Regions from separate parts of the Homo sapiens genome. Here all the other regions are linked to region 2. The links come from fine-mapping of genetic effects on gene expression. A gene starts in region 2. Each other region holds a variant in brackets. All regions are shown on one strand. Distances are between the middles of the regions. Region 1 overlaps DNAL1 (dynein axonemal light chain 1). Region 2 holds the start of PNMA1 (PNMA family member 1). Region 3 overlaps MIDEAS (mitotic deacetylase associated SANT domain protein).

The links. PIP is the estimated chance that this variant, and not a neighbour inherited with it, causes the effect.
Region 1: its variant is fine-mapped to the expression of PNMA1 in whole blood (TOPMed, PIP 0.97).
Region 3: its variant is fine-mapped to the expression of PNMA1 in whole blood (INTERVAL, PIP above 0.99).

The regions. Positions count from the first base shown.
Region 1 is chr14:73,673,079-73,681,260 of GRCh38, reverse strand. The region is part of intron 5 of DNAL1 (dynein axonemal light chain 1); the gene reads right to left. Among named protein-coding and RNA genes, the nearest start is that of DNAL1, 32 kb to the right of the region's middle. The variant C/T (reference allele first, on the strand shown) is at 4,438.
Region 2 is chr14:73,709,810-73,717,991 of GRCh38, reverse strand. PNMA1 (PNMA family member 1) reads left to right here and starts at 3,608. Exons shown (of 1, transcript NM_006029.5): 1 at 3,608-6,209. The coding sequence starts at 4,353. The coding sequence ends at 5,414. It overlaps MIDEAS (mitotic deacetylase associated SANT domain protein), which reads left to right. Exons shown (of 13, transcript NM_001367710.1): 13 at 1-2,870. RefSeq lists enhancers at 3,143-3,212, 4,153-4,212 and silencers at 3,433-3,712, 3,893-4,062.
Region 3 is chr14:73,745,054-73,753,235 of GRCh38, reverse strand. All of the region lies in intron 1 of MIDEAS (mitotic deacetylase associated SANT domain protein), which reads left to right. It overlaps LOC124903345 (a long non-coding RNA gene), which reads right to left. Exons shown (of 3, transcript XR_007064264.1): 3 at 5,791-6,025. Among named protein-coding and RNA genes, the nearest start is that of MIR4505, 9.6 kb to the left of the region's middle. RefSeq lists enhancers at 5,746-6,259, 6,260-6,774. The variant TTTG/G (reference allele first, on the strand shown) is at 4,465.

The DNA.
Region 1 (8,182 bases), 37 kb after region 2:
TCAGGAGGCTGAGGCAAGAGAATTGCTTGAACCCAGGAGACGGAGGTTGCAGTGAGCCGACAGGGTGCCACTGCACTCCAGCCTCAGTGACAGAGTGAGACTCCGTCTCAAAAAAAAAAAAAGCAAAAAAACAACAAACCCAACAACAACAAATAACAACAACAACAAAAAATCTACAGTTGTGTACGGTAATGTCCTAGGCCTTCACATTCACTCATCAGTCACTCACTGACTCATCCAGAAAAACTTGCAGTCCTGCAAGCTCCATTTATGATAAATGCTCTATACACCTGTATCATTTCTTATATTTTACACTGTATTTTTACTGTACTTTTTCTATGTTTAGATATACAAATACTTACCATTGTGTTCCAACTGCCTGCAGCACTCAGTACAGTGATATGCTGAGCAGGTTTGTCGCCTAGGAGCAATAGGCTAAACCATATAGCCTATGTATGTAGTAGGCTATACCATCTAGGTTTGTGTAAGCACACTCTATGATGTTCACACAACAACGATTGCCTAATGTTGCATTTCTCAGAATATATCCCAGTCATTATGTGATGCATGACTGTATTTCAAAATAGCTAGAAGAGAAGATTTTTAATGTTCTCACTATAAATAAATAATGTTTGAGTGATTGATATGCTAATCACCTTGGTTTGATCATTACACAACGTATATATATGTATCAAAACATAGCATTGTACCCCATGAATAAGTATAATTATAATGTGTCAATTTAAGAATTACTCAGAAATAAATCTTTATACATGAAATATACAAGGTCTTATAGGAATTAAAACTATGGAATTCTACTGAAGGACATAAAAAATATGAATACGTCTTCTCATAAGATTCATTATTATAAAGCTATAACTTCTCTCCAAATCAATTCACAAATGTAATATTTAGGAGTTTTTTCATACATGGACAAAGATGGTGGAGCAACACAGCTTGTACAAAAGATTGCAACAACCTAAGTGTCCGTCAGCCGTGGCCTAGCTAAATATATTAATACTATGCATTGAGGAAAACAAGGTGGAACTTACCTGTATGTGCTGAAGTGGAATAATTTGCAAGATATATTAAGATAATTTGATAAAATGATTCTCAAGTTTCTCTGAAGAGTAAATGCCCACAAATATTTTGAAAAAGGAGAGAGGATTTTTCTTGATATCAAAATAAATTCTAAAGTTAAAGAAAATTAAAGCAGCATGATATTGAAGCTGAAATTTATAGAAAGAACAACAAACAGAAAGAAACTGACCATCCAGGAACCTACCCATGCATATCCAGGAGTTTAGCAGGTGGCATTTACAAACAGTAGGAAAAAGAGACTTTTCAATAAATGGCTAACCAATTAAAGAAAAAAAAAAAAGACATGATACCTGCGCCTCATGACACATGTAAAAATAAACTCCAGATGAATTAAGAGTATAGACTTAAAATTTTTAATTAAGAAGATAAGACTATTTTTACAATCTAGTACCTAAGACCTTCTATGTAAAATACAAAACACTGAAACCATAAAGATTTGACTAACAAAAATTTTTAAATACCATTTGGTAACCACGAATAAGGTAAAAAGACAAGAAACAAACTAAGAGAAAATATATCAGTTTTGAAAACTGCATTAAATTTCAATGTGGAAACTGTGATCAGATTGCCAGGGTCTGACTAACATGACTTAAGTCTTCTGCTTCTTCCTCTTCTCTGCCTCCCCTTTCCTTCTGCCCTTCCCCTCTACTTCATTAGCTTCTTTTTTGTTTGTTTATCCAATTATCTCTCAGTGAACACTTAGGTTGCTTCCACCTTTTGGCTATTATAAATAATGCTACTACAAACATGAGTGCATTTTTCTGTTTGCATTTTTTAAGGAGAAAATAATCAGTATTTTAACAGAAAGAGTATTAAAAATGTACACAAGATTTAAAAAAACCAACAAGTATAAAAACAAAAGTCTTGGCCGGGCACGGTGGCTCACGCCTGTAATCCCAGCACTTTGGGAGGGTGAGGCAGGCGGATCACAAGGTCAGGAGTCCAGACCAGCACGGCCAATATGGTGAAACCCTGACTCTACTAAAAATAAAAAAATTAGCCGGGTGTGGTGGCATGTGCCTGTAGTCCTAGCTTCTTGGGAGGCTGAGGCAGGAGAATCGCTTGAACCCGGGAGGTGGAGGTTGCAGTGAGCCGAGATCCAATCACTGCACTCCAGCCTGGGGGATGCAGCGAGACTCCGTCTCAAAAAAATAAATAAATAAATAAAAATAGAAAAGTCTTTCTCACCCTATACCCCAGCTCCCTTGCCCAGAAGTAACAGCTATCACCAGAAATACTCTATGCATATATGTACATATAAATATTCACTTTGCTTTTTCTACACTTCATATATCTTGCAAATTATTCCATTTCAACACACAGAGGGAAGTTCCACCTCATTGTTTTTCCTCAATGCATAGTATTTATTAATATATTTAGCTAGTCCACTGCTGATAGACACTTAGATTGTTGCAGTCTTTTGTATAAGCTATGTTGCAGTGAAATACTTGCTCTACCATCTTTGTCCATGTATGAAAAACTCCTAAATATAGAATAGGTGGGACAAAGAAATACACATTGAATATTGTGATAGCTATTGACAAACTGCCTGTCTCAGCAACAGTGTTTAAGGATGCCTGTTCACAACTGCTACTCCAGGCACACTGCCTATGGGGTAGCACTGCTAAAAAAAAAAAAAAAAAAAAAAGAATACCTGCTCACTATATTTGAATACTTTACATAACTGAGCCTCAGTTTCTTTATCTTAAAATAAGGATAATAACATCTACTTGTGAGCTGGAAATGAGATAATGCATGTAAAGAGCCTACTATGTGGTTAATAAATGATAATTACAACAACAATATAATAGCATTTTCAATATTGATAATTATTAGGGATATTAAAAAGTACCTATAATTCAGTAAGAAAAAGATAAATCTAGTAGAAAAATAGGTTAAAAATGTGTTTGGTCAATTTCCAAAAGATGAAACCTAAATGACTAGTATATAAAAAGATGTTCAGCTGGGCCCAGTGGCTCATGCCTGTAGTCCTAAGCACTTTGGGAGGCCGACATGGGCAGATTGCTCGAGCTCAGGAGTTCAAGACCAGCCTGGGCAACATGGTGAAACCGTATCTCTACAAAAAATAAAAAATATTACCTGGGTGTGGTGGTGCGTGCCTGTAGTCCCAAGTACTTGGGAGGCTGAGGTGGGAGGATCACTTAAGCCCAGGAGGTCGAGGTTGCAGTGAGCTGAGATTGTGTCACTGCACTCCAGCCTGGGTGACAAAGTCAGACCACCATCACACACACACACACACACACACACACACACAAATATATATATATATATATAAATATATGGGCCGGGCATGGTGGCTCACGCCTGTAATCCCAGCACTTTGGGAGGCCAAGGTGGGCGGATCACGAGGTCAGGAGATCGAGACCATCCTGGCTAACACGGTGAAACCCCGTCTCTACTAAAAAATACAAAAAATTAGCCGGGCGTGGTGGCGGGCGCCTGTAGTCCCAGCTACTCAGGAGGCTGAGGCAGGAGAATGGCGGGAACCCGGGAGGCGGAGCTTGCAGTGAGCCAAGATCATGCCACTGCACTCCAGCCTGGGCGACAGAGCCAGACTCCGTCTCAAAAAAAATAAATAAATAAATAAATAAATATATTTATATATATGTTTATAAAGAAAAGACATTCAAAGTCAGAACTGACTAGATAATGGAAATTAAAACAACACGGTACTTGCCGCGAACAGTGGCCTGTAGTCCCAGCTACTCAGGAGACTTGAGGCAAGAGGGTCACTTGAGCCCAGGAGTTTGAGTTCAGCCTGGACAACATAGCGAGACCCTGCCTCTAAAAAAAAAAGAAAAAATCAACACCACCACCAGACTCCATTTTGCCTATCATACTGGCAAATGTTAAAAATATGAATACTACTGGCTGGGCGCGGTGGCTCATGCCTGTAATCCCAGCACTTCGGGAGGCCGAGGCGGGCAGATCACGAGGTCAGGAGATCGAGACCATCCTGGCTAGCAAGGTGAAATCACGTCTCTACTAAAAATACAAAAAATTAGCCAGGTGTGGGGGCGGGCGCCTGTAGTCCCAGCTACTTGGGAGGCTGAGGCAGGAGAATGGCGTGAACCCAGGAGGTGGAGCTTGTAGTGAGCCGAGATCACGCCACTGCACTCTAGCCTGGGCGACAGAGCAAGACTGCATCTCAATTAAAAAAAAAAAAAAAAAAAAATGAATACTACTCACTGATGTTGAGGGTGGAGGGGATAATCTTCATCCATGTGCCAGTGATGGAAATAGAAACTAGCATTAGCATTGTGGGAACAATTTGAGGTACCTATCAAAAATTTAAAGGCACAAAAATATCCTCAG[C/T]TTTTCTACTTTCATAAATCTATCCCATCACATGTAAATACGCAAATAACTGCTGAGGGACATGTGTGCAAAGATGTTCACTGCAACATGATTTGTGGAAAGAGGAAGAAATTGAGAGAGAGAGAGAGAAAACCCACACTCCTCACCCAAGAAAAAAAAACCTGGAAATAATCGAAATGCCCAGCAGTATAGGAATAGTTAAATACATGATTGTATACTGATACTGTAGAAAACTACACAGCTATTTTTAATGTATTAAATCTGCATGTATTGACATTGAAGGATATTATTGATATATTGTTGAGAGAAAAAGCTAAATTACAGGAAAAAATGGCTTGTACACTATCAGAACAAACAATATGACACACACACACATATACACAGAGCTATTTATTTGTATATCCACAGAAAATATTTTAAAGTGCACAAAACAATAAAATTTTTGTTACTTCATGGAGCTGGTAGGGAATAGGAGGTAGAAAGACCAAAGATTTTCACAGCATATTTCACATATTTATAAATTGCTTGATTTGTTTTCGCAATGAACATATGGTACTTATAGAATTAAAAAAAAAATTTTTTTTTTTTTTGAGACAGTCTCTTGCTCTGTCACCCAGGCTGGAGTGCAGTGGCGTGATCTCGACTCACTGCAAACTCGGCCTCCCAGGTTCAAGTGATTCTTGTGCCTCAGCCTCCCTAGTAGCTGGGATTACAGGTACGTGCCACCACGCCTGGCCTAGAATTAAAATTTTGACTCCGTCTCAAAAAAAAAATATTTTATTTTATTATTTACTTATTTATTTATTTATCGAGACAAAGTCTCACTCTGTTGCCCAGGCTGGAGTGCAATGGCGCAATCTCGGCTCCTGCATCCTCTGCCTCCTGGATTCAAGCGATTCTCCTGTCTCAGCCTCCCAAGTAGCTGGGATTACAGGCACGCGCCACCAGGCCTGGCTAATTTTTGTATTTTTAGTAGAGACGGGGTTTCACCATGTTGGTCAGGCTGGTCTCGAACTCCTGACCTCGTGATCCACTGCCTCGGCCTCCCAAAGTGCTGGGATTACAGGCGTGAGCCACTGCGCCCAGCCTACAATTTTAACTTAATAGTTGTGTAACTGTAATAAAACATGTTGAGTCACTGAATAAACACTTACAGAGTGTCTACTATATATATCAAGCACTATTGTAGATGCTAATTAACAAAACTGAAATGGCCAGGCCCTCACAGTGGCTCACGCCTGTAATTCTGGCACTTTGGGAGGATGAGGCAAGAGGATCACTTGAGGCCAGGAGTTCAAGACCAGCCTGTACAACATAGTAAGACTCCATCACTACAAAAAAAAAATTTTTTTTTTAATTAGCTGGGCAAGGTGGTGCACACCTGTAATCCCAGCTATCCACCTGTAGTGCCAGCTTCTTAGGAGGCTGAGGAGCAAGGATTGCTGGAGCCCAGGAGTTCAAGATTATAGTAAACTATACTAGTCCGAGATTACAGTGAGCTGTAATCATGCCACTGCACTCCAGCCTGGGTGAGAGAGTGAGAACCTGTCTCTAAGCAAACAAAAATCAAAACTGAATGGTCATTAGGATTTGTGTGTGTGTGTGTGTGTGTTTGTGTGTGAGAGAGAGAGAGAGAGAACAAGAACAAGAATTTCAGGTAATAATGAGTAACATGAAAAAATAAAATTACAACTGGTAGGAGTTACTCAGCCAGGCGTGGTGGCTCAGGCTTGTAATCCTAGCACTTTGGGAGGTTGAGGCAGGTGGATTGCTTGAGCCCAGGAGTTCAAGACCAGCCTGGGCAACATGGCGAGACCCCTACTAAAAATACAAAAAAATTAGCTGAGTGTGATGAGGTGTGTCTTTAGTCACAGCTACTTGGGAGGCTGAAGCGGGAGGACTGCTTGAGCCCAGGAGACACTCCAGCCTGGGCGACACAGTGAGACCCTGGCTCAAAAAAATAGTTACTCCACCAGGCATGGTGGCTCACGCCTGTAATTCCAGCACTTTGGAATTACTCAGCTCAGGCTGAGGCCAGAGTATTGCTTAAGCCCAGGAGTTTGAGATCAGCCTGGGCAACATAGTGGGACCCTGTCTTTACAAAAAATTAAAATATTAGCTTGGTATGATGGCACACACCTGTGGCCCCAGCTACTCAGGAGGCTGAGGTGGGAGGATGGCCTGAGCCCAGGAGGTCAAGGTTGCAATGAGCTGTGATTGTACTACTGCACTCTAGCCTGGGTGACAGAGTGAGACCTCGTCTAAAACAAAAAGAATTAGTGCTTAGAGAGCTGCTTTAGATATACGGTGATTGGGTCACCTTTGAGGAGGCAACATCTGAGCTGAGGTGTAAAGATCAAGAAGGAGCCCACATCGTGATTGGGTCACCTTTGAGGAAGCAACATCTGAGCTGAGGTGTAAAGATCAAGAAGGAGCCCACATCGTGATTGGGTCACCTTTGAGGAGGTGACATCTGAGCTGAAGTGTGAGGGTTAAGAAGGGGTCCGCATTGTGGAAATCCATGGCAATAGAGTTTTTAAGACAGAGGGAACAGCCAAGTATAAAGATTCTCAGGTGGGAATGAATTGTGCATGGTCAAGGAACAGAAAGAAGGCCAGTCACTAGAGATTATCAACTAGGAGAAGAGAAACATGAAATGAGATCAGAAAGGAAGGCAAAGGCCAGATCATATATACAAATGGGTTTATAATGTACCTCAATAGTTTTCCTGAATAGTTATAAATCAACCCCTTTCCTTCAACTTAACATTCCATGTTTCACACATTACAGTAATCATTTTTAATTTACTGAGACAGCTATTTAAATCATGCTATGAGGCAGATGTGTCTAGATGAATAAGTCATCTAGTATGTGAACATATTAGAAACCCAGTATCTGCATCCCAATGCAGCTTTCTTTTTCTTTCCTTTTTTTTTTCCCCTCTGTCACCCAGACTGCATTGCTATGGCACAATCATAGTTCACTGTAAACTCAAACTCCTAGGCTCAAGCAATCAATCCTTCCACCTCAGCCTCCCCGAGTAGCTGGGACTATAGGCATGTACCACCATGCCTGGCTAATTTCTTTTTAAATTTTCAGTAGAGACGAAGTCTTGCTATGTTGCCCAGGTAAACTCCTGGCCTCAAGGGATCCTCCCACCTTGGCCTTCTAAGTGCCAGATTACCGGCATGAACCACTGTGCCCAGCCATAGCTTTGTTTTTCTTTATTCTGCAAATAAGCAATAAAGCTTTTGGACAAAACCCCACATTACACCCTGGAAAGAAAAACAACTATTGGCTATCATTGATAGGAGTGTATAAAAAGTGACGATATCTAAAACAAGTGATAGTTCAGCCAGATAGCATCTTAATACACAATACATACCTTTAATCCTATATTTATAATTTATTTGTGGTCTCTGGGTATTTATTACATTTTATGGAATAAATTACATGCTATAGTAATACTTGAGAATTTGGGATTCTATAAGGGATTCTATAAATACCTGGGGGAACATCAAGTATATTGACACTAAAAGTTCTGGAGTACATTTATCTGCAAACTATTTCTTTATAGATAACTCAAAGTTACATTTAGCCTGAAATATAATAATTCTGAATTTCTGTATTACAATTTAATATTTTACGCTTTATGCACAATGTCTCTATATTTGAAATTTTTCCATCTAAGGCTCAGAAACTGGACAGAAGGCTAAATATCCTTAAACTTACCAATTTATTTAGA
Region 2 (8,182 bases):
CCAAGGGCGCTTCGCCTTGAGCAGGTCCCGGAGAGGCTCAGCCTGCCCCTCCTGGGGCCAGCCTCCTTGCCTCTGCTCTGACCTCAGCAGCTACACCTAACCCCACCGCACCCTACCCAGTGTCGATATCCACAACCCAGCCCCCAGGCCTGCACTTTGGAGATTTCTGGATCCTTCCCTGGGAGGGAGAGGTCTCCTAACTCGATTGGACAGGAGCCTTCATTCCTTGACTCGTGTCATTTGGGAGCTATTTATTTATTCTTAGTATTTAATTTTTAACATCCTCTCAGGGACCAGGGGCCTCCTGCTTTTCAGAGGCCCGAGTGCATTTATCCCAAAACGAGGCATCTTGACATCCCCTATCCCCACCCCCTAAATTCCCAAGGCCCTAAGGTCCCTCACCTGGTTGCTCTGGAAGCTCTTGCTGATAGGAATGATAGCAACACTGAAAGAGCGTGGGAAGGTGGAGGGTGTCACCAGACCCACACAGAGCAAGGGAGATTAAGGCAGTTCTTGCTGCCCCTTCTCTGGCTGTGCTTTGCCTGAGGGAAGAGTTGGCAAGAGGCCAGAATTCTAGTTTGGTTTATGGGGCCTGGATTCTGGCTTGAAGAAGCCATATTTGGCATGGGTGAAGTGAAAGGGCCAGGAGGTTCTGGAGGCCCCTTCACTTCCAGTCCCATAGCGGGGCTCAGCTATTTTTCTGATCTTATTCAACTTTAGTTGTGCAAAAGAAATTCTAAGTGAATGCGCGTATGACAGGTCAACGTATTAGGAAGGAGCCAGAAAGTATTCATACTGCTACTCCTTATGAGATAGCCAAGAAGCATCATGTCAGTAACTGGGAGTGGAGAGGGAGTTTTGTTTTGAAACTATGCAGGTATTTTTCAGCATCCATTTGTACATTAGTATGGTTCTACAGGACCCCAGCTGTGGAAGTAACAAATTTCTTCTCCCTCCAGACTCTTGGATGACTACCTAGATCCCCAGCTTACCGGTTAGTTTCCTCCACAGGCTTCCATGAGCTCAGTGTCCCAAGACAGCAAAAATCTGGTATACCCTGTAGAAGCAGGGGGGTAGCAAATTTAGGCTCTCTTCGAAATTACTTGTACAATACGAGTGCCTTCGCAGCTTAGCCCCAAAGTGCTACTTATGTTTCCCAAGGTCTTTTCTATTCAAATCATATTTGGTTTCAGGCCCCTTTATGGGCATACGGTAACAGAAACCTCCATCATTCATATGAGACCCTTTTGTCAGTGGTAACATCTTGTACTTGGAAAAAAAATTTTTTTTTTTTTTTTTTTTTTTTTTTGAGACAGAGTCTCATTCTGTCGCCCAGGCTGGAGTGCAGTGGTGTGATCTTGGCTCACTGCAACCTCCGCCTCTTGGGTTAAAAGAATTCTCCTGCCTCAGCCTCCTGAGTAGCTGGGATTATAGGCACACACCACCACACCCAGCTAATCTTTTTGTATTTTTTTTTTTAGTAGAGACAGGGTTTCGCCATGTCGGCCAGGCTGGTCTTGAACTCCTGACCTCAGGTGGTCCACCCGCCTCGGCCTCCCAAAGTGCTGGCATTACAGGCGTGAACCACCGTGCCTGGCCGGAAGTCTTTAAAAAATAAAGTGATTCTACTCTTCTAAGCTTACAGAGACCAGACCAGGTGAATGTAACTGGGGAAAATCAAGATGGTACCTCTCTGCATTATCCCGCCAGACACTGTATTTTATGCATTCATGTCTAGGATACAGTGTGAAAATTAAAAAGTTTAGAGGGCAGATGCAATTGTGGCAAGTGACCTGCCAATAAAGCAGGTGCAGCTATAGAAGCTGGCATAGGTATATCCTTAATGGTGCTTTCTCCCTGGGCTTGTCTTTTTGTTGTTTTTTTCCCCCTATATTCAGAGCTCCTTGAGAAGTGATAAACACCTCCAGCTTTCTAACATCCTCCCCACACCATCTCACCATATCCATCTCCCAGCATCCATCTGCATTCAGCTAAGGGCGGGAAACTGACCTAGTGCCTGTGTTGCAGACCATTTCTGAGGTCTCCACCATCCAAGGAGGCACAGCCGTCATTACTGTCCTCCATGCCTTCAGCAGCCCCCCTCACAGCTAAGGTACATACCACCCCTTCTGCCGCGCCTCCACCCCTGGCACCAAGGTCTTCTGCTGCTTATGTCTAAAGGGATCACCTATATTTAACTGCCTCAGTGACCTAACCTCTTTCTTCTCATGTGCCAGATGTTAAGATGAAGGAGGAATACAACACATACTCAAGCCTCAGCCTGTTTAGTTGTTTTCACTGGGGCTCGCTTTTCTGGGACGGTATTTATTATCAGACTGGCAAGCCTAACTCCATAGGTTTACAGGAAGTAGGGATATTTTTATAAAACAATTGTGTCCTCCCCACATTTTGCTATGTTAATATTTGCTTCTAACAATTTGCAGCTGTTTCACTTTTTCCTCATTTGTCTCTAAGTTGAAGGCTTTGTTGGAGGGGACAGAGCACAGGAACAGCCTTGACAGTCTGTAATTATTGTACAGATATTTTAATAGCATATAAATAAGTATATTCCTTTTATTTTGAAACAAAAATGATCAGACACTGCCTTTTGTGTGTTTGCTGCCTGTGGCATCCTTTTTTAAAAAGACTGTTACATATTAAAATAGTGTACATATATAAATATTACCTCTTTTGCTGTACAGTTGTGATAGAGACTGAAGATTTTATTTTTTGTGTGCTTTTTATAAGAAAAAAATTAATACACTAAAGAATCTTGCTGATGTGATTGTAATGTACCTATGTAACTTATTTACTTTTGAATGTTCTTCTGTATCTTTAAACCTTTTATTAAATAAGGTTTTAAAAATTCAGAGTTGAATGCTTTGTTCTCTTGGGATTTTCACCATCTGGGGTTGATGTAAGTGCGCCTTGTCTTGCTTGCAGGGAGATTACTCGACATTTTTGAACCATAAGGATTCTCTTTTAGCAGCCTATTGTCAATGATGCCAGCCAGGAAAAGGAAAATAATACACTAATGTTTGCCTGGCTAAAAGATGACTCAGTAGACACAGACAGATTTTTACAAAATTTTAGACAAGAAAAAGTCTAAACTCAGTGTCTCACACAAATACACAGAAATGGCGCACTCCGACATTTTGGCTTCATTGGGATGAAATATGCAGGGTGCACAGTGTGGTCAGGGGCAACGGGAAGCCAGGGTTCTGAGGAGAGTATTTTCACGTGCAGGGTGGACTGGCTGAGCAACCCGAGTAGACAAGTCCACCATGAGGGATGCATTTCCAACAATATCATCTTAAATCCACTCCAGGATTGGGTTATTATTTTTAAAACACGGTGCTTAGTAGTAGTTGTTTACTGTTAAAATGCTAAATTATGAAAAAGGAAATGCGCCATCAGAGAAACAAATGCCCGAGCCCCTCGCTGGCTCCACGGCAACCGCTCGACCCCCGCGAGCCGCCGGAGCAGGCGTGCCTCGCGCCGGCTGGGACACCGTTGCCATGGAGACGCCCGAGCAGCTCCGCCGCGGGGGCGGGACGGGGCGGGGCGGGGCGGACGCCGCTCGCCGGCTGGCCCCATCCTCCACTGCAGCAGTAACGTCGCGGCGGGTTGCGGGTAGGACTGGACGCCAGAGCAGCCGCGCAGCGCCTGAACCGCTGCGGGCCGCCGCGGCCGCCCCTTCCCACCCTCGCCTCTGCTGTCTCCAGCCTCGCTTCTCCGACTTTCCTGCTCCTCTGCTGCCTTCGTTTCTGGTCCTCGGCCGTCCTCGCCGCCCGCCCAGAGGAGTCCCCGCGCCCGCCAAGAAGCCGCTTTCCGCTGGCCCGCAGCCGCCGCGACTTCGGCACAGTTTCTCCCTCTGGCTAGTCTCCCAAACGGCCGCTCCTCGCCCGCGGGAAGACCAGGCTGCGACCGCGAACGCCCGATCCTCTCCAGGAGCCGCAGCGAGCGCCCGGCGGCCACGCCCCGCGACCACACCCCGGCGGCTCTCGGCCCAGCGCGCCTGCCTTCGCCGCCCGCCGTCGCTCCTCGCCCGCTGCACGACGACGCGACGCCCCTGCTGCAGGCGGCGGACCCGACCGGACCCAGACCCAGACGCAAGATGGCGACGGCCGCGTGACTGCCTCAGCGTCCCCGAGCTCGGCTCCGAGTGCACCTACGGACTGACTGTGGGGGCAGAGAAGGGCGAGATCAGGACTCTGTCTTTGTTAATCGTGACTGCATGAAGGTCGCCTCCCTCGGGCCTACTTGGTGGGAGTGTCTGGTATTGTTCTAAGGCCAGGAGCACGGTGAGCCACAGTCTGTTGGTAGAATTTGGCGTCTTGATAGTTGAGAAAATGGCGATGACACTGTTGGAAGACTGGTGCCGGGGGATGGATGTGAACTCCCAGAGAGCTCTGTTAGTCTGGGGCATCCCAGTGAACTGTGATGAGGCTGAAATCGAAGAGACCCTCCAGGCTGCGATGCCCCAGGTCTCCTACCGAATGCTTGGGAGAATGTTCTGGAGGGAAGAAAATGCGAAAGCAGCCTTATTAGAGCTCACTGGCGCTGTAGATTACGCCGCGATCCCCAGGGAGATGCCGGGCAAAGGAGGGGTCTGGAAAGTGTTATTTAAGCCCCCAACTTCTGATGCTGAATTTTTAGAAAGATTGCACCTCTTCCTAGCTAGAGAGGGGTGGACCGTGCAAGATGTTGCCCGTGTCCTTGGGTTTCAGAACCCTACTCCGACCCCGGGCCCAGAGATGCCAGCAGAGATGCTAAACTATATTTTGGATAATGTTATTCAGCCTCTTGTTGAGTCCATATGGTACAAGAGGCTGACACTTTTCTCGGGGAGGGACATCCCAGGGCCTGGAGAGGAAACCTTTGATCCCTGGCTGGAGCACACTAATGAGGTCCTAGAGGAGTGGCAGGTGTCCGATGTAGAAAAGAGGCGGCGGTTGATGGAGAGTCTTAGAGGCCCCGCCGCTGATGTTATTCGCATCCTTAAGTCCAACAACCCCGCGATAACCACTGCCGAATGCCTGAAGGCGCTTGAGCAGGTGTTTGGGAGCGTTGAGAGCTCTAGGGATGCCCAGATCAAATTTCTGAACACTTATCAGAACCCGGGAGAAAAATTGTCTGCTTATGTCATTCGTCTGGAGCCTCTGCTACAGAAGGTGGTAGAGAAGGGGGCCATTGATAAAGATAATGTGAACCAGGCCCGCCTAGAGCAGGTCATTGCCGGGGCCAACCACAGCGGGGCCATCCGAAGGCAGCTGTGGCTTACCGGGGCTGGGGAAGGGCCAGCCCCAAACCTCTTTCAGTTGCTGGTGCAGATCCGTGAGGAGGAAGCCAAGGAGGAGGAGGAGGAGGCTGAGGCCACCCTTCTGCAGTTAGGCCTGGAAGGGCACTTCTGAGTGCCAGGAAAGGCAGCTTTAGTGCAGACCTAGATCACAGCTACTTTTCTTGTCCCTGTGGGGTCTTACAGATGTGTCTCTGAGTAGTAAAGGCTTAGCCTTGTTCTGTTTTGTTGTTTTTTGGAGGGGAAGGTTAGTCAGGCCTGAGTATTCATGTAACATTCTAAAATTGTGCCAGCGAGCACCGTGAACGACTGCAATGCAAGCGGGTCTTGCTGGCTAAAATGCCAGGTAAAGGGTTGGTTGGACACAGCGCTTAGTGCACGCTGTCATCATGGACATCATAATCAGTTGTGAAAAACACGCGAACCTATGACACTTCTTATTCCACACTGAATGTGAAATTGCATGTTCAGATGTTTACTACGAGGCCTGGCTCACAGGAAGTGTTCAGTAAAAGTATGCACTGTTAGATTACTGATAACGCGGATAGATTTTTGTTTACCATAAATTGTTCCAGATTTATATTAATGGAAGGAAGTGTGCATTTATTAGCTATTACTCAACTTTACAATGCAAACATCTTATTTCTCATCTTTAAACATGTCGACCAGTTTAATTGAAAAGTATTCTGAGACTGCAAAATGGGGTGTTAAAAAATACTGCAGTTACGGAGCTGTGTAAACCAGTTTCTCATTGCATAAGATACAGATGTAAATTGCATGGAGAGGTTGATATGCACCTGTACAGTAATTCACTCCCCCATTTCACATCTTTGTCAGAGAATAGTTCTTGTTCATACTGAGTGTTCTAAATTTGAAGTTATATATACAAATTAAAATATTTTAAAAATTCTGTTGTCTTCTCATTTTTCTGGCATGTATAAACATTTTTAGCCTAAGTAAACTGTCCTTTTTTCTTATGAAGACTTTGTCATTAAATCAAACCATTTATTTTAAGCTTTGTATGATACTATGTGAATTTAAATGGCAGGTCCTTTTTTTCCTTCCCCTCTTGCTGTCATCTTAACAGTTTTTTGTTTTGTTTTTTAATTTTTAAAATTTTTTATTTTTATCGGGCAGAGAGGGTCTTGCTCTGTTGCCCAGCCTGGAGTGCAATGGAGCGATCTCGGCTCACTGCAACCTCTGCCTCCCGGGTTCAAGTGATTCTCCTGCTTCAGCCTCCTGAGTAGCTGGGATTACAGACATGCGCCACCACGCCTAGCTAATTTTGTATTTTTTTAGTAGAGACGGGTTTCACCATGTTGGTCAGGCTGGTCTGGAACTCCTCACCTCAAGTGATCCACCCACCTCGGCCTCCCAAAGTGCTGGGATTACAGGCGTGAGCCACCTCGCCGTCTCTACTAAAAATACAAAAATTAGCCGGGTGTGGTGGTGCGTGCCTGTAATTCCCGCTACTTGGGAAGCTGAGTCAGGAGAATCGCTTTGGGAGGCGGAAGTTGCAGTGAGCCGAGATTGCGCCATTGCACTGCAGCCTGGGCAACAGAGTGAGACTCCATCTCAAAAAAAAAAAAAAAAAAATTTAGATACCAGATTTGGCTCACACTTGTAATCCCAGCACTTAGGGAGGATTGCCTGAAGCCAAGATTTTGAGACCAGCTTGGGCAACATAGACCCAATCTCCACCCAAACTTTTAAAAATTAGCCAGGCATGGTGGCACACGCCTGTGGTCCCAGCACTAAGGTGGCCACCCAGCGGCTAAGGTGGGACATCGCTTGAGCTCAGCAGGTTGAGGCTGCAGTAAGCCATGATCGTCCCACCGCACTCCAGCCTGGTGATAGAGTGAGACCCTGTTTCTCAAAAAATTTTTTTTTAGAAAATCTTGAAATGGGGTTCAGGAGGTTATCTGGCAGTGTTTTTCTCTTAAGATCACTTTTCAGCTAAACATTTTGTTTCACTGAAGAAATAGCTATAATTCATCACACCTGTGTAAAATGAAGGCTATTTTACAGCAACCATTTTATAGCAGGACGATATAAAAAGGGAAATACAACTTTAAAACATGTTTATTTTGCTGCAAAGATTCAGTGATTGAAGATGTCCATCTTTTGAGATCCTCAGTGAATCTAAAGTTATTACATGAATATTGTGTTCAGTGAGCCTTTCCCTAATAAGGTTTTAAAATTATAGCTGAGCCATTCGACAAGTCTATAAGGGGTAATGTATGTTCTTCCAGATTTTTCGGTACACGTATTCGCTTCATGTCAGTACATCCCTTTCCTCCTGTCACAAAAACATCTCCACATACTTGCCTTGGTTCCCAACAGATATGCTCAGCTTCACTTACCACAAACACTTGGCATGTCTTCACCTGCTACCCATCATTCACAGAACTTTCCCCTCCATTCCCACCAGCATCAGGTGCACACTCACCCCTCTTACACTCTTGACACACTGTCATCTCCCCGTCAGTACTCCCATCATAACATACACCCTCCTCCTGCTCCACATGTACACGATGTCAGTCTCCCACCCCCAACATATATTCCCATTTCTCCTCACACCCACACACACTCCCACCACCAAACACCAACCAGCCACCACATATGTATACACACTCCCACTCCACACATATACACACATACTGCATTTTTTTTTTTGAGACGGAGTCTCGCTGTGTTGCCCAGGCTGGAGTGCAGTAGCGTAATCTCAGCTCACTGCAACCTCTGTCTGTTGGGCTCAAGTGATCCTCCTGCCTCAGCCTCCCAAGTAGCTGGGATTACAGGTGTGTGCCACTACGCCCGGCTAATTTTTGTATTTTTAGTAGAGACAAGGTTTCACCATGTTGGCCGGGCTGGTCTCAAACT
Region 3 (8,182 bases), 35 kb before region 2:
TCCCTCTCCAGATGCTTCACAGGGCAGCCAGGAGCCCAGCCTTGAGCCCTGAGGCCCTTCTGTGGAGGACTCAGCTGTGGGCCTGGGGACTGCTCGGCCAGGCACATGCACAGGAAGAGGGGAAAGGCTTGGTTTCAGCTTAGTGTGGGCTTCCTGGGGACCTCCCAAGTGTGTCCTCCCCCTTAAAGGTATCCCAGCCTCTGAGGTACTGAGAACAGCTCTGGGGAATCAAAGGCTGGGGCTAGGTGGAATCTTTGGTCTCCCTTCTTGGCTGCTGGGTCTGACCTGGGGCCCATCATTCCAGCTGGCTTGGCCCAGGTCCCAGAGAGTCTGGTTGGTGTGTACTTGGGGCTTGGGCTGGATGCTCTGCTGTGCCCGCATGCTGTGCCAAAGGCCTCTGGGTGTATTTCAGGAACAATAAAGAATAAATCAACATAGGAGAAAAGGCCCTGCAGCAGCTGCTCAGAGACTGGAGAAATGCAAAGAATGTGTGAGCCTTTGGCAAAAGTCTTGCATCTTGACCAGGGCCTGAGGAAGGGCGTGAGGCTGATGTGATGGCTCTGGAGTCAAATGGGCGTCTGTCTGTGCCCAGTTTGCAGCCCTTCTAGGAGGCCCCAGGCAGCCACACTGAGACTCCCCTCCCTCTGCTGGTGGCAAATTTTTTTGCTTCCTGGTCGCTAGCATGTACTAGGGAGCCATATTGCCCCCGTTCTTTACTCTCACACTACACTGCCAGACACCGACCCATCCAACCCCCAAGCACCAGGTGGGTCTTGGCCCTTTCCAGCCCTGACCAGTCAGGAGAGCCTGGGTTGATGAAGACTTGGTAGGCTTGACACACATGCTACACCCCCTGCTTTACCTCCCCCAGACGAATGTCAAGGACCTGGCAATGCCAGGTCTAGGGGTGCTAAGTGTGAGAACATCTACCTGGGAGGCCGTCACTATAGCTCTGCTCAGGTAGTCAGCCATGTGTCCTTAGGCAGGTCATTTTACCTTTGAGGTCTTGGTTCTATGAGCCATGAAATTGAGGTTTGGACAAATGATCTTTGGAGTGAGTGGGCACCTCTGTCTCCTCTACTCGGGATGTGCGATGAATATATTTTATTTAGGAAGTTAAGTTATTGGGAGAAGCAACACTCTGAGAGCACCATGTGGAGATATGGGTGGCTGTGGCTGGGGGCTAATGCTCAGTGTCCTGAGTGGGGGAACCCAAGCAGAGACCTGATTTGACCCAGAGCTCAGGGTGCCAGGAGAAGGGACAGGAGCCTAGACTCCATGGGGACTTGAGTTATCTGACAAGCAGGGGAGAGCCAAGACTTTATTTATTTTTTTGAGACAGAGTTTTGCTCTTGTCGCCCAGGCTGGAGTGCAGTGGTACGATCTTGGCTCACTGCAACCTCTGCCTCCTGGGTTCAAGCGATTCTTCTGCCTCAGCCTCCCGAGTAGCTGGGATTACAGGTGTGCGCCACGATGCCTGGATAATTTTGTATTTTTAGTAGAGACAGAGTTTCTCCATGTTGGTCAGGCTGGTCTCATAAACTCCTGACCTCAGGTGGTCCAGCTGCTTTGGCCTCCCAAAGTGTTGGGATTACAAACGGGAGCCGCTGCATCCGGCCTGGCTTTATTTTTAAAGAGCTGTTGGCTAACCTCAGTTGTGGGGTTGGAGGGTGTGGAAGGGGTGTGACTTCCTCTTAGGCAAAGATGCCGAGCCCTCCACAGGTTGGCCCACTGGAGGTAATCACCTGTAGCCTCTTCACCTTCAAAGCCACTCACCTGCCCGGCCTCTCCCACCCACTTTACCCGACCAGCCACATCTCAGAACATCATGGTGGTTTTCAGGGGCTGAAGCTGCTCTCCAGGGAGCAGACGTGAGCAACCCAGAGGCTGCTGCTGTCTATCCCAGGCAGCCTGGTGTGACCTCCAAGTCTGAAACTCTTGGGGGAGGAAGTTTGCAGAACAGGCAGGCCTAGGTGCCAGTCCTGGCTTTGCCTCTATACTGCTGTGACCTTAGGCAAGTGATTTGACCTAAGGTCTTCTCAGATTTCTTGTTTAGAAAGGAGGAGTAATAATACCTACCTTGATGGCCTGGTGTGGTGGCTCACGCCTGTAATCTCAGCACTTTGGGAGGTTGAGTTGGGAGGATCCCTTGAGGCAAGGAGTTCAAGACCAGCCTGAGCAACAAAGTGAGACTCCATCTCTACAAAAATAATAATGATAATATCTACCTTTCTGTGAGATGATTACACAGGATAATGTGTGTAGTGTGCTTAGCACCATGCCTGGCACATAGTAGCACCTTCAATGGAAATTTTGGAGGTATTGATGAAGCCTTGTTTGTGTGATGTTGGGATAAACCTTGGCTCCATGCTTTGCCCAGTGTCTTGCCAAGTGGTGGGGCCTGCCTAAATGGAGGCATGAAGCATTGTTATTGGAGTCCTTGATTTTGCTCCTGGCTGTGTGTCCTCGGACGAGTTTATTTCCTTCTCTGGACTGCTCTGTGGAACGAGGAATTGGAGTAGGTAAACATTGACATCCCTTGATATTTGGAATCTGTTCAGCTTTCCCAGCTGGGCCCTGCTTTGCCAGTTGGCTCTGAAGAGAGGCCCAAGCCACCTTTCTCCATGTGGCATGGAGGCTTTTATTCCAGAGTGAGATGGTGCTGAGCCTGCAGCCTCCAGCTCACCTCTGCAGTCCCCCATACCTCAACACCCTTTGGGCTCTCTTGGCTTCCAGGGGCTTTTACAGATACCCCCAGTCTGGAGGGGAAACTGTTTCTGGCTGACTGGGGCTAGGATAATTTCTTAAGAGGAGTGTTAATAGACCATGCTGTGCTTGGAAATGCCCCCAGGGAAGAGCAGCAGCTCCGGAGCTGGCTTTGTGAAGTTCTCAAGTGTAGCATTCCTTCTGAGGCCCACCGGTGTAGATTTCAGATTTTTCTGGGAGGGTGGTGGAAAGAGCAAGGACTTGGAAGACACAAGATAAAGATTTGAATCTTGCTTCTGGCTCTGTAACAGCAGAGCCTCAACTTCCCTCTGGAGAATGAGGACATAAGACTCCTCCATAGGAGGTTTATAAGCATGGATTCGAATTTGTAGAGGACCCAGCCCAGCGAAGTACTCGTTAGCTCCCTTCTTTTGGGAAGGATCTGTCTTTTGGATATTTTGTAGATTGGCCATGGAAGTGGAAATATTTGCCTGTGGCCATTTTTCCTAGGGAAAAGCAGGGCTGCCTGACAAGCTGTTGCAATCCCAAAGGCCTCTCCATCCCCTAGTTGTTTTGATGTCGGGATCAAGCTTGGGGTCAGGTTCAATGTGTGTCTGGGAGAGGGGATACCCAGGCCTTTGCAAGTCTGAGCTCTGCGGCTGCCTAGGACTGTGACACCGAAGGTGTGGAGAACATGGGCTGAGGAGGGAGGGGCCTTTCTGAGCTGAGAGAACTTGGCAAGTTACTTTTAACCTTCGTTTCCTGTAAGTTTCCCAAATTTCCTTCGGTTATTGATTTCCAATTTCAACCCGTTTTGATTGGAGAACATACTTTGAGTGATTTCAGTCCCTTTAAATTTGTTGAGACTTGTCTTATGGCCTAATGATGATCTATTGTAGAGAGTGTTCCTTGTGCTATAAATATACATATATATATTTTATATATATATTATATTATATAATATATAAAAAAGTATGTATTTTTTATTTTTTCTGAGACTGGATCTTGGTCTTTCATGCACGCTGGATTGCAGAGGCATGAACACGGCTTACTGCAGCCTCAACCTCCTGGGCCCGAGCAATCCTCCTGCCTCAGCTTCCTGAGTAGCTGGGACTATAGTGGCCACCACACGCAGCTAATTTTTTTTTTTTTTTTTTTTGTAGAGACACGGTCTCGTTTTGTTGCCCAGGCTGGTCTTGAGCTCCTGGGCTCAAGTGATCCTCCTGGCCTTGGCCTCCCAAAATTTTGGGATTACAGGCACCACTGTGCCGGGCCTGCTCTTTTTTAAAAAGAAACAAAAAAACAGTTCACCTACAGCTGCAGTATCTGTGTGCTCTTGAGAAGAGTGTGTATTTGTGTGTATTTTGCTGTTGTTAGGTGGAGTGTTCTATATAGGTCTTCCAGGTCTAATTGGTTTATAGTGTCTAAATCTTCTATTTCCTTGTCGATCTTCTATTTAGTCGTACTGTTCGTTGTTGAAAGTAGAGTGTTTTCTCTCTCTCATGTGTATGTATAAAATAACATGAAAAAAAGTAGAGTATTGAAGTTTCCTACTGTTATTTGAGTTGTTCATTTTTTCCTTTCAATTCTGACAGTTTTTGCTTCATGTATTTTGGGGCTCTGTTGTTAGGTACATGCATGTCTATAACTGGTATAGCCTCCTGAGGGACGGACACTTTGTTCATTATAAAATATTCTTTGTCTATAATAACAGTTTTTGTCTTAAAGTCTATTTTGTCTGATTTTTTTTTTTTTTTT[TTTG/G]AGACGGAGTCTAGCTCTGTTGCCCAGGCTGGAGTGCAGTGGCGCGATCTTGGCTCACTGCAGCCTCCACCTCTCAGGTTCAAATAGTTCTCCTGTCTCAGCCTCCTGAGTAGCTGCGATTACAGGTGCCTGCCACCACATATTTTGTCTGATATTAGTATAGCCATTCTAGCTGTCTTTTGGTGACTGTTTACAATGGTATCTCTTTTTCCATCCCTTGCTTTCTTTTTTCTTTTTTGGTACAGAGTCTCACTGTGTTGCCCAGGCTGGAGTGCAGTGGCGCAATCTGGGCTCACTGCAACCTCCACCTCTTGGGTTCAAGCAATTCTCCTACCTCAGCCTCCCGAGTAGCTGGGACTGCAGGCGTGTGTCACCATGCCCTGCTAATTACTTTCAACCTATTTATATCTCTGAATGTAAAGGGTGTTTCTTTTTTTAATGAAATTGCATCTTTTTTAAAGAAGTCTGTTCTGCCATATAATTGCATATTTTTTTAAAAGTCCATTCTGCCAACCTCTGCCTTTTAGATATTTAATCCATTCACATTTAAAGTAATTATGGATAAGGTAGGATTTATGCTGCCATTTTGTGATTTGATTTCTGTATGTCTTATGTCTTTTTTATTCTTTTGTTCTTCTATTACTGTCTTCCTTTATGTTAAATAGATATTTTTGAGTATACCATTCCTGGTCTGTAAATAACGAGACACAGAACAGTAAGGGTTAAACAAAATGCTGCCTGCAATGGACTTAGCACAGTGCCTGGCAAATAGTAAGTGCTCAGTAAACATGGGCACTCAATTGGGTCCCAGGCGTGGTAAGAGCCACAGTTAACCCTAGGACTGGCTGAGAGCAGAGTCCCCTCAGGGCTCTGTGCGACCCCTCATGTCTCCTGGGCAGGCCATAGCACTCTGACAGGTAGTGCCTTTGGGGAATGGGGAGTGGTGGGTCCTGGGAAACTTCACTATGCCAGGCTGTGGCCCTTTAGCCCTTCCCCTGCTCCAGTGCATGGGCACCACCTGGCTGCTTGTGAAGCATCCTAGATTCCCCATCGTGCTCTTCCCACCCCCGACCCCCACCCCACCAGACCCATGAACTAGTCTCTCAGGGTGGGTTTTATTGCACACACTGAGGTTTAAGAACCACTGCTTGACATCCACACAGACGGGTATTGACACAGTGACAGAGAGAGACCTGGTTTGGGGTCAGGAGGCTTAGATTTGAATCTTGACTCCTCAGTCATGAGTTCTGTGAACTGGGACAAGTTACTTTCAGAGCCAGCCTTTCTCGTTTCTCAGTTGGAAATAAGTGGTTATGCAGATAAGCAGTACTCTCGCATATTCGGCATGCAGCTAGTCCTGGTGGCACTTGCTTTTTACAAAGGTGTTTCTTTGGTCCCTGGATACAGGTCTCTTCCCACCCCAGGCTCTTAAGCTCCTCAAAGGCAGGAACCAGTGAGTGGCGGCTCCTGGACCAGACATCTGGTTGGTTACCTGACAAACAGTCCACTGCCCTCCGTCTTGGATCATGTTGTCTCCAGGCCCTGCTGCTCCCAGGCTCTGTGCAGGAACAGAAGGGAATTGAAGAAGCATTATTGGATAGTGGTATAAGAGCATGAAGATTCAGAATGGGTGACAACAATATGTGCTGGAGGGCCAGCTGGAGGAGGTAGGCCTTGAGGGAAAGCAGATTGTGAGAGTGGAGGCAGGGCTTCCAGGCAGAAGGAACAGCTCTAGGGGAGGCTCAAAGTCAGGGAGCTCCCCCAGGGGTTGCCTGTCCCCAGGGGTCACTTACCCCTAGTCCCTGCACGGGCTTCCTTGCATTATAATTAGCGTGTGTTTCTGTTTCTCTGTCTCCCCACCGGCCTGGAAGCTCTGTGTCTCCTGTGTCTCCCAGAGCCTGGCTTGCAGCAAGTGCTCAGCAAATGCTTGTGGAGCAGATGAAGGGTCAGCAGGCCCACCTGCAGAGCTGCAGCAGGGAGGGTGTGTGGTGGGGGAGTGGGCAGGGCAAGGCAATGGCAAGGGAGGCCCCTGTGAGTGGCCTCATCTGTATCTTTGGCCCAGGGCAGAGTCTGGCACTGGGGTGCTCAGGCACAGACTTCAGAGAGCCCTGCTCTAGCCCTGCTGGGGAGCCAGGCCTTTCCAGAAGGGAAGGGAGGTAGTGCAGCAGCCTCCAGTGGTGGGAGCTGTATAGGGCATAGAGACTGTTTTGAGGAGACAGAGCAAGGACCCCAGCGGTCCCAGGAGGCCCTCACCAGAGGGCCTCAGGAACATCTGCTGAGTCTCCTGCGGAGGAAGCCTAAACCTGCCTGCTTCTACCCTACTCCTGCTGGGATCCCTGGGTCCTGTTGGAATGGGTTTTCCAGGGCTGCCTGTGACTCTTCGTGGCCTTTGCCTAGGAGGAAGGCAGGCAGTCCCTTCAGTGCAGGCAAAAGCTGAGCCTGGAGGCTTAATCCTTTTCTGGCTTTGCTCATGACTGTTTTCTCTCTGCATTAGCAGCCCCCACCTCCCCCACCCCTGGCAAAACAAACCTGGCTATCCCAGCTTCCCATGGACACCCTGTGGGCATTTGTGGGGCTATGGGGGAGGGAGGCAATCAAGGTAGAAGACTGGACGGAGCCCTGAGAGTGCCTCATAAGCCCTGAAAGGATTCCTCTCTTACACATCCCTTTAAAAGCATCTCAGTGGTTGGCATTTTTACTGTGTAAGCTCAAACTTCAGGCAGCTTGAACCCTGGCCAAGCTTCTGATCCTGAGCAGCTTGATGGCTGAGACCCCTGGGACTCGTGACTCTCTGGCCTGTTGGCCTGGGCTCTGCTTTTCAGAGCTGAAGTTCAGTCCAGAGAAGTGATGGTCCAGGGACTGTCTGGATTGGGAATGGGCCGACCATAGGGCCTCTTGCCTGCTCTCTCATGCTCCCAGGGAAAATGACACTTGTGGGAGTCAGATCCACGTCTGTTGTATCAGAGCCTCCTTGTTTGCAAACCCCTTGAGAATAGTGCTTATGTGTCCAGTGGCTTGCAGAAATGGGGTACACTGGCCTTTGTGTGAAGTCCCAGTTGGTGGGGGTGCATGTAGCATTGCAGATGGGGTCCAGAGGGAAGGTTTGTCTAGGGCCTGGGCAACTCTAGCTGGCCCAAGATGGCAGTTCCAGGCCATTTACCGAGTCTGGCTATAGCTGGAGACCCCAGAATGTCTGAGAGAGCTTTTCAGGATGTGAGCCCAGATGAGGGGGCCAGCTGGGCCATGCTGTGCTCCTCTGGTGGGGGTGGCAGGGACTTGTTATGGCTCCCTGGCATCCTGGCCAGACCTTAGTGTCTTGAGGTCCAGCCATGTCAGGGCATGAGGTAAACAGACCCACAGGCTTGTGTCCCTGGCCACTGTCTAGGTGGGGGTAGAAGCCTAGAAAAGTGGGGTGGAGGGCAACAGTGGAGCTGGCACTTTTCCAGTTGGCCTGCATGTGTTGTGGGGCAGCAGGTGACAGTCAAGGGCAGGTGGCTTGTGGGCCAGCAGGGAGAAGGACTTGTGTTCCACATAGGTGTAGAGGGCCTGGGGCCAGGGGTAGGGTGGGATCCCGGGCTGGGCCTTTTCACTTCATCCCAGCATCTTGAGGAGCTCTCATGTGCACCAGAGAGCCCAGAAGTCAGGAGCAGGCAGGAGCCCAGGGCAGGAATGCGGGCTGTGTCGCCTCTGCCCAGGTGTGGCTCTGACTCACCTT